Regions from separate parts of the Homo sapiens genome. Here region 2 is linked to region 1. Evidence: fine-mapped expression QTL. Tissue or cell type: whole blood. Region 1 holds a variant in brackets; the other region holds the start of a gene. All regions are shown on one strand. Distances are between the middles of the regions.

Region 1 (8,105 bases):
GCAGCCATTAATACAGGCTAGCTAGGAGTGAGGCCAGTGGTGTGGGAATGTTGCCCTGCAGAGTTCTTGAAATTGGTACAATTCTTGTAGCATTCTGTACAAAGACTCAGACACACACAGCAGTAGAGGTAGTAGCACTGTCATCAGAGGGAAGAGACATCTGCCTTAGTGCTGCTGGGGGCTGGATGTTGAGACTTTTGTGAGTCCTCACTACCTGGCAGGGCCTTTTAATAAATCCCAATTACCAGAGGGATCCAGGCTGGTAGAAGATATGTTGATGCGAATATATTTTAGGAATTTTTCTCTCTTTGTTTTAGTAAATAAAATGGCTTCACTACAATTGATATGTTGGCCCAACAATTTTAAGTAGATGGTAGAGTATTCCAAGATGTTAATCCTGATCCAGTGACACATTAGTTTTTACAAAATTTTTATCATAATGTATTTTCACCAGAAGTATTAATCTTTTAAAATAAATTGATAAAAGGCTACATATCATCTTAGTAATATGCATTCTTTGCTATTGAAGTCTTACAAATATAAGTTATTTAGTAATTGCTCCTTGTGGGAGTGAAGAGGAGAAATAGAACATACAGTACACTGTTGTAGCTTACTTGGCATTTCCAACTTCATTCACGTGAAAGCCTTTTTTTCCCCTTATGTAAATTCAGTTCTTGAAATCTCTAGCCTCAGCCTAAATTTCAAACCACCCAGTCAGTTTATTAAAATCAAACCAAAACAAAAAAAAAAGACAAGAAGATTTGAGTATTTTATCAGCAATCTTAGAACCAAGAAGTTCTAAGAGGGACAGATTACTTGAGATTTGGATGCCTACATGACCTGAGTTTAACACAATACACCACAGCTAAATGGGGCTGCAGTAGCATTCCTCAAAGCATGCTTGGTAGCCACATTCTTCTTAGACCAGTTCCTGTTCCCTGGACAATACCATATCATCTTCCCAGGAGTCAATATTCTAGTTTTGCTTCAAAAATGCTCAGAAGTGCCGGGTGCAGTGGCTCATGCCTGTAATCCCAGCACTTTGGGAGGCTGAGGCGGGCAGATCACGAGGTCAGGAGATCGAGACCATCTTGGCCAATATGGTGAAACTCTGTCTCTATAAAAATACAAAAATTAGCTGAGCGTGGTGACGCATGCCTGTAATCCCAGCTACTCGGGAGGCTGAGGCAGGAGAATCCCTTGAACCATGGAGTCGGAAGTTGCAGTGAGCCGAGATTGCGCCACTGCACTCCAGCCTGGCAACAAAAAAAAAAAAAAAAAAAAAAGAAAGAAAGAATAAAAAATGTAACAGGTGGCTGGGTGCGGTGGCTCACGCCTGTAATCCCAGCACTTTGGGAGGCCCAGGTGGGCAGATCACGAGGTCAGGAGTTCGAGACCTGCCTGGCTAATGTGGTGAAACCCCGTCTCTACTAAAAAATACAAAAATTAGATGGGCCTGGTGGCGTGCGCCTGTAATCCCAGCTTCTCAGGAAGCTGAGGCAGATTAGCTTCAACCTGGGAGGCAGAGGTTGCAGTGAGCTGAGATCGCACCATTGCACTCCAGCCTGGGACAGAGCAAGACTCCATCTCAAAGGAAAAAAAAAATGCTCAGAAAGGGGCTGGGTGCAGTGGTACATGCCTGTAACCCCAGTACTTTGGGAGGCTGAGGTGGGAGGACTGCTCGAGGCCAGGGATTTGAGACCAGCCTGGGAGACACAGGGAGACCCCACCTGTACAAATAAAAATAAAAATTAAAAAATTAGTTGGGCATGGTGGCATGTGCTTGTAGTACTAGTTACTCTGGAGGCTAAGATGGGAGGATCACTTGAGCCCAGGAATTCAAGGTTACAGTGAGCTATGATATCACTGCTACGCTCCAGCCTGGGTGACAAAGCAAGACTATCTCTAAAAGAGAAAGCTTTTGACATATTAGAAGGAACTAACTTCTTTGTTATTTATTGAGTATCTTTATGACCACATGAAACACCTTCTGCAAAATCTTTTCTTGAGTGGGTGGATGAGAGGAAAGATTAAAAATTTTAAAAACATGTCACTGATCAGTAGAAAGACCTAAGCTTTCTGATGAAATGGATACACTGGGTTCTAGAGAGAATTATTTTAAAAATAAGACCTATATTTGGACAGATCCTAGTAAAATTTCTGAATTCTAGGATAGAAAAACTGTGATAAGTTTCCAAAAAAAAAAAGTTGTTATAATGGAAAGCATATAGATTTGAGATTTATCCTAGGCCATGAGTATTAGAGTGGGCTTATGGAGTCAGAGAGCCAGGGGTTTAACCACGGATTTGTCAGTAATTTGGGGCTTGTTTCTTATCTTTTCTATGTCTCGGTTTCCTCATCTGATAAGACAGAATAATACTAGTAACTATTTCATAAAGTTTTAAGGGAATTAAATGACTCAACACACGAAAAGCACTTAAAGCACTTAGAACAGTACCTGGGCACATACTGTGTACTTGAGAAATGTTAGTTTTCATTATTAACTAAAATGCAACAATAAAAGATAATGGAATCACTGTCTGTATCTCCATTAAAAGACAGTCAGGTAGACTTCTGACTCCAGAAAGATGGCATAGACATACATTTCCCTATTTATCCAGCTAAATATAACTAAAAACCATGGACATTAAGTTGGACAGAAGGTAGCACACTAACTAGGGACCTGGGGACCCAAGGAACCACATGTTAACGAGTTCTCTGGGCTTTGTTTTTGTCTCCTATATCCCAGACTTAGAGCTGGCAAAGTTGGCAAACAAGAATGTCAACAGGTGAAGACAAAAAAAAAAAAAAGCCCTAATGAACGTGTTCTCTCTAGCCAAAGGATGACAAAAGGAGTAGTTAACAAGACTGAAAGCTTTTAAACAAGAATTGCCCTACTTCAGCTAAACAACCCAGAAAAAACTATGGCCACACCCCTATAGACATGCCAGCAAAGGCTGAAGGCAGAGCCTAGATTTTCACTCTTGCCAGGATGTAACGAGATGCCCCCCAGCCATCTTGCTGGGATAGTGTTAGAAAAGGCCAAGTAGGAAGCTGAAATCTGTTTTTTTTTTTTTTTTGAGATGGCGTCTTGCTCTGTCACCAGGCTGGAGTGCAGTGGTGTGATCTTGGCTCACTGCAACCTCCGCCTTCCAGGTTCAAGCGATTGTCCTGCCTCAGCCTCCCGAGTAGCTGGGACTACAGGCGCCCACCACCATGCCCAGCTAATTTTTGTATTTTTAGTAGAGACAGAGTTTCACCATGTTGGCCAGCTGGAATTTTTACACAACATGGTGAAAATGAGGCTCCACCTCAGTGATATCAGTAGAGACTACATGTGGACCCTGACTTCTACCCCTATCCAGCAGTAACAAAGTGACTATACTCCTCCTCAATGGGGTGATGACAGAGGAGGATCTCGTGAAGAATCGGGATTTTACCACCACCAAGTGGCAACAAGCACTCCTACCTTTTCCAGCCAAAGAGGTATCAGTGAAAGCCTAGTTGAGAGCTGGAACTCCCATTCCTGCCCCGTCCCCGCCCCCCATGTCAATAAAGGCTAAATAGGGAACCTGGACTTCTACCTTTACCTGGCATTAATGAAGCAGCATTACAACCCACCGTTTCACTGTCAGAGTGCTGTCAAAGGAAGCCAGTTAACACATCAGGTTTAAAAAAAATCCAGAGTCTCATAACATAATACACAAAATGTCCAGGTTTCAACTAAAAATTACTCATCGTACCAAGACTAGGAAGATCACAAATCAAATGAGAAATGATAATTAACAGATGCTAATGTCAATGACAAAAATGTTAAAATTATCTGACAAAGATTTTAAAGTAGCCGTCATCAAATTGTTTAAGCAAGCATTTATGAACATGCTTGAAACAAGTGAAAACACTGAAATTCTCAGCAAAGAAACAGAAGATATAAAGAGGAACAAAATGGAAATTATAGAACTGAAAAACACAATAATTGAAATAAAAAAACTAAAACTAAGCGATGGGCTCAACAGCAGAATGGAGAAGAAAGGGGAAAGCATAAGTGAACTAGGGCCAGGCACGGTGACTCACACCTGTAATCCCAGCACTTTGGGAGGCCAAGGTGGATGGATCTCTTCAGGTCAGGAGTTCGAGACAAGCCTGGCAAACATGGTGAAACCCTGTCTCTACTAAAAATACAAAAATTATCCAGGCATGGTGGTGGGCACCTGTAATCCCAGCTACTCGGCAAGCTGAGGAATCTGTACATAAGT[G/T]TACAGATTTAAGAAGCTGAACAAACTCCAAAGAGAATAAACCCAAAGAAATCTACAACAAGACACATCGTAGTCAAACTTCTGAAAACTAAAACAACAACAACAAAATCTTTTTTTTTCTTTGCAGAGGTAATTGAGTTAAAACAACACTAAAAAATCTTGAAAGCAACTAAGGAGATACCATTGGGGGAAATAATATGAAAGACACAGATTTCTCATCAGAAACAATGGAGGCCAAAAGGAAGGAACACATTTTTCAAGTGCTGAAAGAAAAGAGCCATCAACCCAAAATCCTACATCCAGCAAAAATACCCTTCAGGAATGAAACAGGAAATCAAGACAGCCTCACATGAAGGAAAACAACGGGAATTTATTGCTAGCAGACCTACTCTTGAAGAGTGACTAAAGGAAGCTGTCTTAACAGAAGGGAAATGATAAGAAAAGGAACCTTGGAACATCAAGAAGGAAGAAACAACATGGTAAACAAATATAAGGGTAAATACAATAAACTTCCTTCTCTTGAGTTTTCTAAATTATATTCAGTGGTTGAAGAAAAATTATAATTGTCCAACCCGGTTCTAAATGTATTCAGAGGAAATATTTAAGATGAGCATATTAAAAATAAGGGAGGATAAAGGGACATAAAAGGAGGTAACATTTCTAGTCTGAACTGGTAAAGTATACTAGTAGACTGCATATATAATACAATGCCTACAGCAATCAGTAAGAAAACTATACAAAGACATACACTCAAAACACTACAAAAAATCAAAAAGGACTTCAAAAAATTACTCAAGTAACAGAAACAAAAATAGTGAAAACAAATAGAAAACAAAGTTTAAAATGGCAAGCTTAAGTATAAATGATTTAAATATGCCAATTAAAACACAGAGACTGGCAGAATGAATTAAAAAACATCACCCAATAATATGCTGTCTACCTGAAACTCACTTTAAAAATAATGATACATGCATGTTGAAAAGGATGGAAAAAGATATGTAATGCAAGCATTAATCAAAAGAAAGCAGGAGTGGCTATATTAACATCAAAGCAGATTTCACAGAAAATAAAATTACCAGAGAGAGAAAGAAACATTACCTAATGATAAAATGGTCAACCCACTAAAAATACATAGCAATCCTAAATGTGCATGCACAAAACAACAGAGCTGCAAAACATGTGAAGGAAAAACTGACTGAACTGAAAGGAGATATAAAGAAATCTATAATTATACTCAAATACTTCAAAACCTTCTCCCAACAGCTGATGAAACAACTAGATAGAAAACCAGCAAGGATAAAGAAAAATTCAACAACACAATTAGACAACAGGATCTACTCAAAATATATAGAGCACTCTACCTAGCAACAGCAAAATATACATTCTTTTCAAATACCCATGGCACCTACACCAGGACAGACCACATTCCTGGTCATAAAACAAATCTCAAACAACCTTTCAAAAATCGAAGTCATATAGAGTGTGTTACTGGACATAGTTGAATCAAACTAGACATTTATAACAGAAGGGTAGCAAGAAAATATCCAAACACTTAGAAACTAATCAACACACTACTAAATAATCTATAAGTCAAAAAGAGGTCTTAAAAGAAATTTTTAAAAATACACTGAATTGATTGAAAATGAAAATACAGGCTGGGTGTGGTGGCTAACGCTTATAATCCCAGCACTGTGGAGGGCCGAGGCGGGCAGATCACCTGAGGTCAGGAGTTCAAGACCAGACTGGCCAACATGGTGAAACCCCATCTCTACTAAAAATACAAAAAAATTAGTCGGGCGTGGTGGCACGCACCTGTAGTCCCAGTTACTCAAGAGGCTAAGGCACGAGGATCGCTTGAATCCTGGCGGCGGAGATTGCAGTGAGCCGAGATCGCGCCACTGCACTCCAACGTGGGCGACAGAGTGAGACTCCGTCTCAGTTTAAAAAAAAAAAAGGGCTGGACGGGATGGCTCACGCCTGTAATCTCAGCACTTTGGGAGGCCGAGGCGGGTGGATCACATGAGGTTAGGAGTTTGAGACCAGCCTAGCCAACTAGGTAAAACCCCGTCTCTACTAAAAACACAAAAATTAGCTGGGTGTGGTGGCAGGTGCCTGTAATCCCAGCTACTCGGGAGGCTGAGGCAGGAGAATTGACTGAACCCGGGAGGTGGAGGTTGCAGTGAGCTGAGATTGTGCCACTGCACTCCAGCCTGGGTGACACACGCGAAACGCCATCTCAAAATAAAAAAAAAAGAAAATGAAAATACAACATATCAAAATTTGAGAGACATAGGTAAAGTAGTGCTGAGTGGGCAATTCATGGTACTAAACGCACACATAAGAAAATAAAAAATCTCAAATCAATAATCTAAACTCCTACATCAAGAACCCAGAAAAAGGGCAAGTTAAAAATTAAAGAACAGAAACCAGTTAAATTGAGAATAGGAAAACAATAGAGAAAAATCAATGAAACAAAAAGCTGAGTCTTTTCTTTGAAATGATCAGTAACACTGACAAATCTCTAGGAAGAATGACAAAAAAAAAAAAAAAAAAAAAAAAAGAGAAGACACAAATTACCTATATCAACAATTAAATAGGAGAGATCACTACAGACACTGCAGACATCAAAAGGATAAGAAGGGTATACACACATATACAGACATAAATTTAGTAACATAAATAAAACAGACCAATTCCTCAAAAAACACAAACTACAAAAACTCACCCAATATAAAATAGATAATGTGAACAGTTTTATAACTATCAAAGAAACTGAATTAGTCATTTAAAAATTCACAAAAAAGAAAGCTCCAGGCCAAGAGGCTTTTACCAGAGAATTCTACCAAAAGTTTAAATAAGAATGAGCACAAATCCTTGACAATCTTTTGCAGAGAATGGGAGGGAACATTTCTCAAGGCATTTTTTGAAGCCAATGCGACCTTGATAGCAAAACCAGATAAAGACAGTGTCTGGCAAATACAGACAGAAAAATTCTTAACAAAATATTAGCAAGTAGAATTTGGCAATATGTAAATAGAATTTTACAACACCATGACCAAGTAAGGTTTATTCAAGAGATGCGGGGCTGGCTTAATATTAAAAAAAAAAAAAATCAATGTAATCTATCCATATTAAATGGCTAAAGAAGAAAAATCACATGATCATATTAACTGATTTAAAAAAAACACATTTCACAAACATCAGCACCCAGAAATTAAAAAACTCCCAGAAATAGAAATGGAAGAGAACTTCTTCAACATGTTAAAAAGCATCTACAAAAAACAAACCGGCAAAAACCAACCAAACAATAACAACAAAAACTGTACAGCTAATATTATTCTTAATTGTGAAAGACTGAATACTTACCCCCCTAAGACCGGGAACAAGGCAGGATATCTGCTCTCACCACTCTTATTCAACATAGTGCTGGAAGTTCTAGCCAGTGCAATAAGGTAGAAAAGGGAATAAAAGGCATACACATCAGAAAGGAAGAAATTAAACTGAGCCTATTTGCCACATCAACATCTACAACAACAAAATCCCAAAGAATCTTCAAAAAAATTTCTAAAACTAATAAATGAGTTCAGCAAGGTTGCAGGATACCAGATATACATATAAAAATCAACTGTGTTTTTATAAATTAGCAATGAACATAGGAACACTGAAATTATAAATACAATGACATTTACAATTGTTCAAAAAAAGAAATACAAAGAATTAAATTTAATAAGACATTAGATATGTACAGGACTTATATGCTAAAAATGACAAAATGATGATTAGAGGAATCAAGTAAAATCTAAATAAATGCAGAGACATACTATGTTCATGGATTTGAAGACTCAGCAT
Region 2 (8,105 bases), 82 kb before region 1:
CAGACCTTGGAAGAGTGTCTAGGGGCTTAAGAACTTCATGTTCTTCATAGCTTTGCCTTTTTTTTTTTTTTTTTAACCCCCTCATACCTTTGTCCTTTGAGAGAGACAGTTAAGTAGGTAAGGTCTTCCCAAGTCCTCACACCATTACACTCTGGCCAAAAGGCCTTGTGTTTGAAACAGGCCTGATCTACACCCCTCATGTCCTCGGCACCGACGAAACACGATGACATGAGAAAGAACTTGGTGTTTAAGCCTCTGTGCCTGGCAATCTTGTGATGTCTTTTTTTTTTTTTTTTTTGAGATGGAGTCTTGCTCTGTCACCCAGGCTCAAGTTCAGTGGTGCCATCTTGGCTCACTACAACGTCCGCCTCTGGTTTCAAGTGATTCTCCTGGCTCAGCCTCCTAAGTAGCTGGGATTAGAGGTGCCCGCCAACACACCAGGTTAATTTTTGTATTTTTAGTGAAGACAGGGTTTCACCATGTTGGCCAGGCATGTCTCGAACTCCTGACCTCAGGTGATCCGCCCACCTTGGCCTCCCAAAGTGTTGGGATTACAGGCGTGAGCCACTGTGCCTGGCCTTTGTGATGATATCTTAATTTTTACTGCTAATGATGCTCTACTTTAGCTGCAAGAAAGCTCAAGGGAAGTCTGCCTCCTGGCTCTTAGAGAGCAGGAACAGACGAAGACGTGAATCATTAGGGGGCAGAAGGCGGACTATGGGCTCCAAGATGGCCTCCAGAGATTCTCTTCCTCCTGATATTCATGTCCTTGTGTAGTACCAACCTACACTGAATAGGGATGACCTGTGTGATAACAGGATATTGCATAAATGATGGAGTATAACTTCCCAGCCTAGGTCATAAAAGACATTGCGATTTGTCGTTTTCTCATCCTTCACTAGCTCTAGGGAAGGCCTGCTGCCATGTTGAAAGGACACTCACGTAGTCCTATGAAAGCCTGCATTGTGAGCTGAGGCCTCCTGCCAACAGCCAGCACCAACTTGCCAGCCATATGAGCAAGCCACCTTGGAAGTGGATACCCCAACCCACTACACTTTCAGAGGACTGCAACCTCTTGAAAGATTCTGAACAAGAACCACCCAGCTTATCAATCCTGAATTCCTGACTCACAGAAACTGGGATAATACATACATACATACTACTGTTTAAGCTGAAGTTTTGGTGTTTTTACCTAGCGATAGGCCTCTAATGTGGTAGATGAATATTTTGTATGATGTTTTGTCATTGAAACGGCTCTCGATTTTCAAGTCATTCCTTTAGAATCTGGCTAGTTTCTCTGAAGCTCTATGCTTACCATTCTTGTACTTATTCTGGTGTATACAACCAGAAAGTTGGCTTCTCTCTAGGGGTAAATAACCGGAGAGTGATAAAGAACTTAGTTCTCACTATAATAACCACAGAGAAAGGATGCCTCTTGTTAGGTTCATTTTACTTTTTTTTTTTTTTTTGAGACGAGTCTTGCTCTGTCACCCAGGCTGGAGTGCAGTGGCGTGACCTTGGCTCACTGCAAGCTCTGCCTCCCAGGTTCATGCCATTCTCCTGCCTCAGCCTCCCGAGTAGCTGGGACTACAGGTGCCTGCCACCATGCCTGGCTAATTTTTTGTATTTTTAGTAGAGATGGGATTTCACCGTGTTAGCCAGGATGGTCTCGACCTCCTGACCTCGTGATCTGCCCACCTCGGCCTCCCAACGTGCTGGGATTACAGGCGTGAGCCACCGCGCCTGGCCTCATTTTTTTTGAAAAAAAATAAAAAATAAAAAATAAAAAAATCTAAGCTTAATCATAGATTTACCTTACTCTGCTCCAAGGCAATTTTTCAACTTTTTAAAAAATAAATGTTTTCTTTCAGTATAATACCCAAAAAAGTGCACAAAATGTCTTGATAACATATTACAAAGGGAACACACCCATGTAACCCCCACCCAGATCAAAGAAACAGAATATCATTAGCCATCTAGAAGCCCATTTGGTCATCTTCATTTTCTTTTTTTTTTTTTTTTTGAGGCAGAGTCCCACTCTGTTGCCCAGGCTGGAGTGCAGTGGTGCAATCTCAGCTCACTGCAACCTCTGCATCCCAGGTTCAAGCAGTTCTTCTGCCTCAGCTTCTGGAGTAAGTGGGATTACAGGCACGCACCACTACGCCCAGCTAAGTTTTGTATTTTTAGTAGAGACAGGGTTTCACCATGTTGGGCCAGGCTGGTCTGAAACTCCTGACCTCCAGTGATCCGCCCGCCTCAGCCTCCCAAAGTGCTTGGATTACAGGCATGAGCCACTGTGCCTGGCCTAATTTTTTTTATTTTTTATTTTTTGTAGAAGTGGTCTCGAACTTGTGGTGTGCCTTCTTATTTATTTATTCATTTTTTTTTAGAGACGGAGTCTCACTGTCTCCCAGGCTGGAGTGCAGTGGCACGATCTCGGCTCACTGCAACCTCCGCCTACCGGATTCAAGTGACTCTCCTGCCTCAGCCTCCCAAGTAGCTGGGATTACAGGTGCCCACCACCACGCCCAACTAATTTTTGTGTTTGTTTTTTTTAGTAGAGACGGGGTTTCCCTGTGTTGGCCAGGCTGGTCTCGGACTCCTGACCTTGTGATTCGCACGCCTCGGCCTCCCAAAGTGCTGGGATTACAGGAGTTGAGCCACTGCGCCCGGCCGCTTTCTTTTGGTTATCATAAGGCGGGCAGTAGCTGAACTTCTCAGGAGTCCAAGCTCTGTCATTCTTTAGGCTTTGTGCTTCTGGATAAGTTACCTCATCATCCAAATGTTACTGCAAGGACTAAGTGAGATGTAGAGGCAGTGGGCAAATTGTGTAAAAATACTACTGTTTCAAGTGTTTTGATGTTGGAGTTCATCTTGCCAGCCAAGGGATGATGATACTTTGATTCTTCAGGATGATCAGAGCTCAGACTTGGACGGAAGCTCCCTCAGGTCAAGGAGGACCACATTTTTTGGGGGGTGGAGAGAGGAGGCAGAAAGAGAGGCAATGTCAGGCACTGAGATTTAGAAGAGTAGCTATAGCTGTTTTTGGTTCTTGTAGATCCGTCTGTGTTGGCTTCCTACAGGAGCTAGAATTTTCAGAGCTAGTCCTACAGTGAGGGGAGCTAACGTGGAGTGGGCGTGAGAATTCTATTCAGCAAGCACAAGCGAAGCTCAACCTTTTTGTTCAGCCTGCTACAACCAATCATTATGGGAGAGGGGAATAAGGATCACTGCCCAAGGGGCATTAGGATCACTGCCCAGTGGGCATTACAGTCTCCCCAGGGAGGCACTCTTTTTTATTTTTTATTTTTTTTGAGACGGAGTTTCGCTCTTGTTGCACAATGTTGGGTCACTGCAGCCTCCGCCACCCGGGTTCAAGCAATTTTCCTGCCTCAGCTTCCCAAGTAGCTGGGATTATAGGCATGGGCCACCACGCCCCGCTAATACGGAGGCACTTTTAATTAGCCCACAGTCCAGTGAAATTTGACGGAGTGAGGAAGTGACCTCAGAGTACAGAACGGGATGGGATCCTTCCGGGCTTGGGCAGCCTTTGGTAGTGGGGATGCTTGGAAGGGTCAGGGTCTCAGTCCTGGAGGTGACCAATTTTTCTCTCCAAAAGAGAAAGGAAGATGATTAAAAAAAAAATCCATGCTCCAAAGCGGCAGCCAAATCCTTCTATGGCCCCCAATGCATCACCCAGAAAGGGGCTCCAGACTCTCCTGCAAAAGGCCAACTCTACTTCCCGGCTCCCACTTCCCCTCCTTCGCCACAGGAGGGTGGCGAAGGATTTATAACCCACCTCTTTCTTTCAGTTGCCATGGAGACAAGCCCCAGTCCTTTCATTCCTTCTGGTACCTCTCTCTCCAACGCAGGCGGAAAGGAGGCGGCTTAGCCCAAACATGCTGGGGGAGGGGCTGGCGGCCTCGACGGCAGCTGCGGAACTAGGCCGAGGGACAAAGGCTAAGGTCAGCCGCGGTTCAAGCCCTTTCGTCTGCCGACGACCAGCGGCCAGACGCTGCGGGAGCACTGCTGGGCTGGAGGAGGGCTCGAGCTGCGAGGACGGCACGGAGCAGCGGGGTGGGACTCGGGGTCGCCCCAGGAGAGTTCCGCGGCCCGGGGGGGCAGAGGCATGCACAAGTGGGGGGCGGAAGGAGGGGGTGGATGAGGAGGCTCGGGCCCTTCCACCCACGCGTCCATTGGGCGGCGCCGCCATCACTCTCTTCTGGGCTACACCGCCTTCTCTTCCTCCGCGGAACCCGGATCCCCTCCTCCACCACCCTCTCCCCGCCCCGTCACGATAGCCTCTCATTGGACGGAGGCACGGTCAATCCTCCTCGAGTTAGGGAGCCGACTGGACGCGAGGCCTTTGGGCCGTCCCCAGCCTCGTCGGATTGGCTTCCTGCGCGTTGGCGCAACGGAAGAGGCGGCCGGCCGAGGGCGCGCCTCTGCTCTGGCTGGACTGCCGCGGAGGAGGCGAGAAGGAATCCGACGCTGGGGGGCTTGCTCGGGCGGCAGCGACTGCTGCTGCGGATGGGAGGGGGCCGGCTCGGCGCGCCCATGGAGCGCCACGGCAGGGCTTCCGCCACCTCCGTCTCGTCGGCTGGGGAGCAGGCGGCCGGGGACCCCGAAGGGCGGCGGCAGGAGCCACTGCGGCGCCGGGCGAGCAGCGCGTCGGTGCCCGCGGTCGGGGCCTCGGCTGAGGGCACGAGGCGGGATCGACTGGGCTCTTACAGCGGCCCCACCTCGGTCTCCCGCCAGCGCGTCGAAAGCCTGAGGAAAAAGCGGCCGCGTAAGTGTTCCGTGGGGCGCCCTCCCGGCCCGCCCTGCCCCCCCTTCCGGCCCACCCTGTCCCCTTCCGGCCCCGCCGCCGTTTTTCCCGCGCGCGGACACTGTCCCCGCACGGTGGTCCCTCGTTGGTGCGTGGCCTGACATCCGGCTGGAGGCCTCGGGTGCTCCGAAAGCGGTACCTTCGGGGGCCCCCCCGCACCCATTGGTATGCACTTCCCGCTTGTTGGAGTGGAGGGCTTTTCCCCAGGACCTGTCCTCCCTTTTCTTAGCTCCTTGGGCATTCTCTTCCTGAGGGTCACATGATTTTATCCTCGAGAAGGCTTCTTTTGACTCATTTCCACCTCCTTTCCTCCCAAATCCTTTGAATCCCCAATGTTTGTTTTCCGTGGGTTTCCAAAGAGCTGCTCTCTAATACTTTAAGTCCCTTTTATTCGTCAATTTCGGGCTTACTGGAAAATGGTGAACTGCCCCTTGAGTTGCACCAGGCCTGAAACTGTATTCCGTGCACCTCTAAGGTGGCTGCCCTTCTTCTCGTGAGAATCCAGGTCATCTCTCACCCACATATCCCCTCCGTTTTCCTTCTGTCTATTTGCAGGTACTCACGATTCAGAACTGTGGCATTCTGGGCATTAAGGCTCTTTGTTTTGAGGGGAAACAACATCTTTCTGAATTTTGCCTTGGGAGTTGCATACGCTCCTCCCAGAGAATCCGTTTCCCCATTTTATTAGGTTTCTTTTTCTGTGTTGTGTATTTTCTCCCCTTTACAAGTCTTCAATTCAGGACCGCTGCCTGGCAGCCATTGCTGCTGTTGAAAGTATCAATTGTCCTGATACTGTAATATGAGCTTTACAGTGTGATGCCATTTTACATATGGTTGGACTTTTTGGTGGGTGTTGCCAGATTCCTATTTCAGGAAATTGACTTGTTTAAATGCAGATTGTGAGAGGGAGGGAAAATGGCAAGATGTGAGATTTTTATTGAATAGTCTTCTACCTTAGCCCAGTCACCCAACTGCTTTTTTGAATCTTCTCTGATATGGATGATTAAATGTAGTTCTATTTTGCTGTGAAAAGTTTGGGAGTTTTCAGTTCTTTTGTCTTTTTCCATCTTCTTGCAACAGATTTGGAAAACAGATTCTTAACCTGTGCCATTTTCAGAGTCAGTCACCTAGTTTTGTTTTATTTGAGAAGCACCTGAGTTTGAAGCAATGCAAAATATGAGATCCTTCATGGTTTTGTATTACATCGTTGGAAATGGATGTAAATTCCAAAGATTCAGCAAATAAGAGTATAGCCATTAGCCACAAGGGTTTTTTTGGTTTGTTTTTTGTTTTTTACTTTGAGACAGCGTCTTGTTCTGTTGCCCAGGCTGAAGTGCAGTGGCATGATCATGGCTCATTGTGGCCTTAACCTCCTGGGCTCAAGCCATCCTCCTGCTTCAACCTCCTGCATTGCTGGGACTAAAGGCACGTGCCACTATGCCAGGCTAATTTTTCAATTTTTATTTTTTTAAATAGAGATGGGATCTCTTATGTTGCCCAGGCTGGTCTTGAATTCCTCCTGGTCTCAAGCGATCTTCCCACTTCGGCCTCCCAAAGTGCTGGGATATAGACGGGAGCCATTGTGCCCGACCTGGCAGTCGTCTACTAAGAGCTTTGGTAACTCATTAGCCTCGTGGCTCTGAGGTAGGTGGTAGTATTCCATTTTACAGATGAGAAAACTGGGACACGTTTGCCCGGTCAAATGGCTAGTGCGTTGTGAAATAGAAATGTAAACTCAGAATTGCTAGCTTCATAGCTTTTGCGGTGGACCACTGTGTTTTTCTGAATTATTTACGTTCTGTTAGTTATTTCTTCATTGCTCTAAGACCAAGCATAAGTTTGATCTTTTGTGTTCAAGACTGACTTACTTGAGGCGAAAATTTTTAGATACTGTGGAAGTACTTCCAAATATTGAGCATGAGAATGACCTGGTAAAAGTGCAGATTCAGTGGGCCCAGTTAAGCTCCTCATATTCAAATACAGGTGACTCAAAGACCACACTCAGAAAAACCGGTTTACACTGGGTGGGGAGAATTATATTAAGGTAGTTTTGAAACTTATTTTAGGGAACTAAGTAGACACATATTCATGCTATAGGATTTATATTTTGTTTTGATGTTTGATGTTTGTCGTGATTCCCTTCATTATCTTCTCTGGCTGATAAATCATGAAAACCCATCTTTCCAGTATAAGACCTGCTAAAGGAATGAACAGGATACTGATTGTTCTTCCTTCCATTTGTTTCTTCTGTACTATCTAGGGGTGCCCCTGTTAGGTGGAGAAGCAGGCTGGGCGCAGTGGCTCATGCCTGTAATCCCAGCACTTTGGGAGGCCAAGGCGGGTGGATCACCTGAGGTCAGGAGTTCGAGACCAGAGACCAGCCTGGCCAGCATGTTGAAACCCCGTCTCTACTAAAAAATACAAAAATTAGCTGGGCGTGGTGGTGCATGCCTGTAATCCCAGCTACTCAGGAGGCTGAGGTGGGAGAAACATTTGAACCTGGGAGGTGGAGGTTGCAGTGAGCCGAAATTGTGCCAGTGCACTGCAGCCTGTATGATACAGTGAGACTCCTCAAAAAAAAAACAAAAAAAAAGGAGAAGCAGCTTGTTGACTGCCGAACCCTCCTAGAGTATACTTCAGTCTTATCTCTGAGAGAATTCAACTAAGACTAAATCTTTTTTATTTATTGTTGGGAGGTTTGGGTATGGAATGGTGCCACCTTTCTGGTGAAACCCTATCTCTACTAAAAATACAAAAAAATTAGCCGGGTGTGGTGACGCGTGCCCGTAGTCGCAGCTACTCGGGAGGCTGAGGCAGATAATTGCTTGAACCCGGGAGGCAGAGGTTGCAGTGATCGAAGATCGCGCCACTGCACTCCAGCCTGGGCGACAGAGCGACTCTGTCTCAAAAAAAAAAAAAAAAAAGCCTTACTCTGATACCGCACTACTTGTCTAAAGGTGCAGATAGATACTAGTTGTCATTTGAAAGTCGAAGGAGCTATTCAGGTTATCTTAGGCATTCTTGTGGTCCTGGTTGTAGTCGTGTTCTGTCACGCGTTTCCTAGAGCAGTGTAGTTCCCAAACCGGCCCTTGTCCCAGACTTACTGCATCAGAATCCCTAGCGATGAGGCTAGGCATGTGTATATTTAAGTTCTTCAAAAGTTTTGCATCAGGTGGGGAGGGGGGTATGTCTCGCAGGGCTGAAAGAAATACCAAATAAAGATTGATTTTAAAATGATGGAAACCAAGACGCTAATGATGGTAATGTAGCTACCATT

What was found. PIP is the estimated chance that this variant, and not a neighbour inherited with it, causes the effect.
Region 2: PANK2 starts here. The variant in region 1 is fine-mapped to the expression of PANK2 in whole blood (TOPMed, PIP above 0.99). The same link has a PIP of 0.9 or more in blood mononuclear cells.

The regions. Positions count from the first base shown.
Region 1 is chr20:3,966,710-3,974,814 of GRCh38, forward strand. All of the region lies in intron 1 of RNF24 (ring finger protein 24), which reads right to left. Among named protein-coding and RNA genes, the nearest start is that of RNF24, 45 kb to the right of the region's middle. The variant G/T (reference allele first, on the strand shown) is at 4,257.
Region 2 is chr20:3,884,940-3,893,044 of GRCh38, forward strand. PANK2 (pantothenate kinase 2) reads left to right here and starts at 4,448. Exons shown (of 7, transcript NM_001386393.1): 1 at 4,448-4,789. The coding sequence starts at 4,492. It overlaps PANK2-AS1 (PANK2 antisense RNA 1), which reads right to left and starts at 4,234. Exons shown (of 2, transcript XR_001754478.3): 1 at 3,800-4,234; 2 at 1,430-3,610. RefSeq lists an enhancer at 3,523-4,074 and silencers at 4,083-4,142, 4,333-4,832.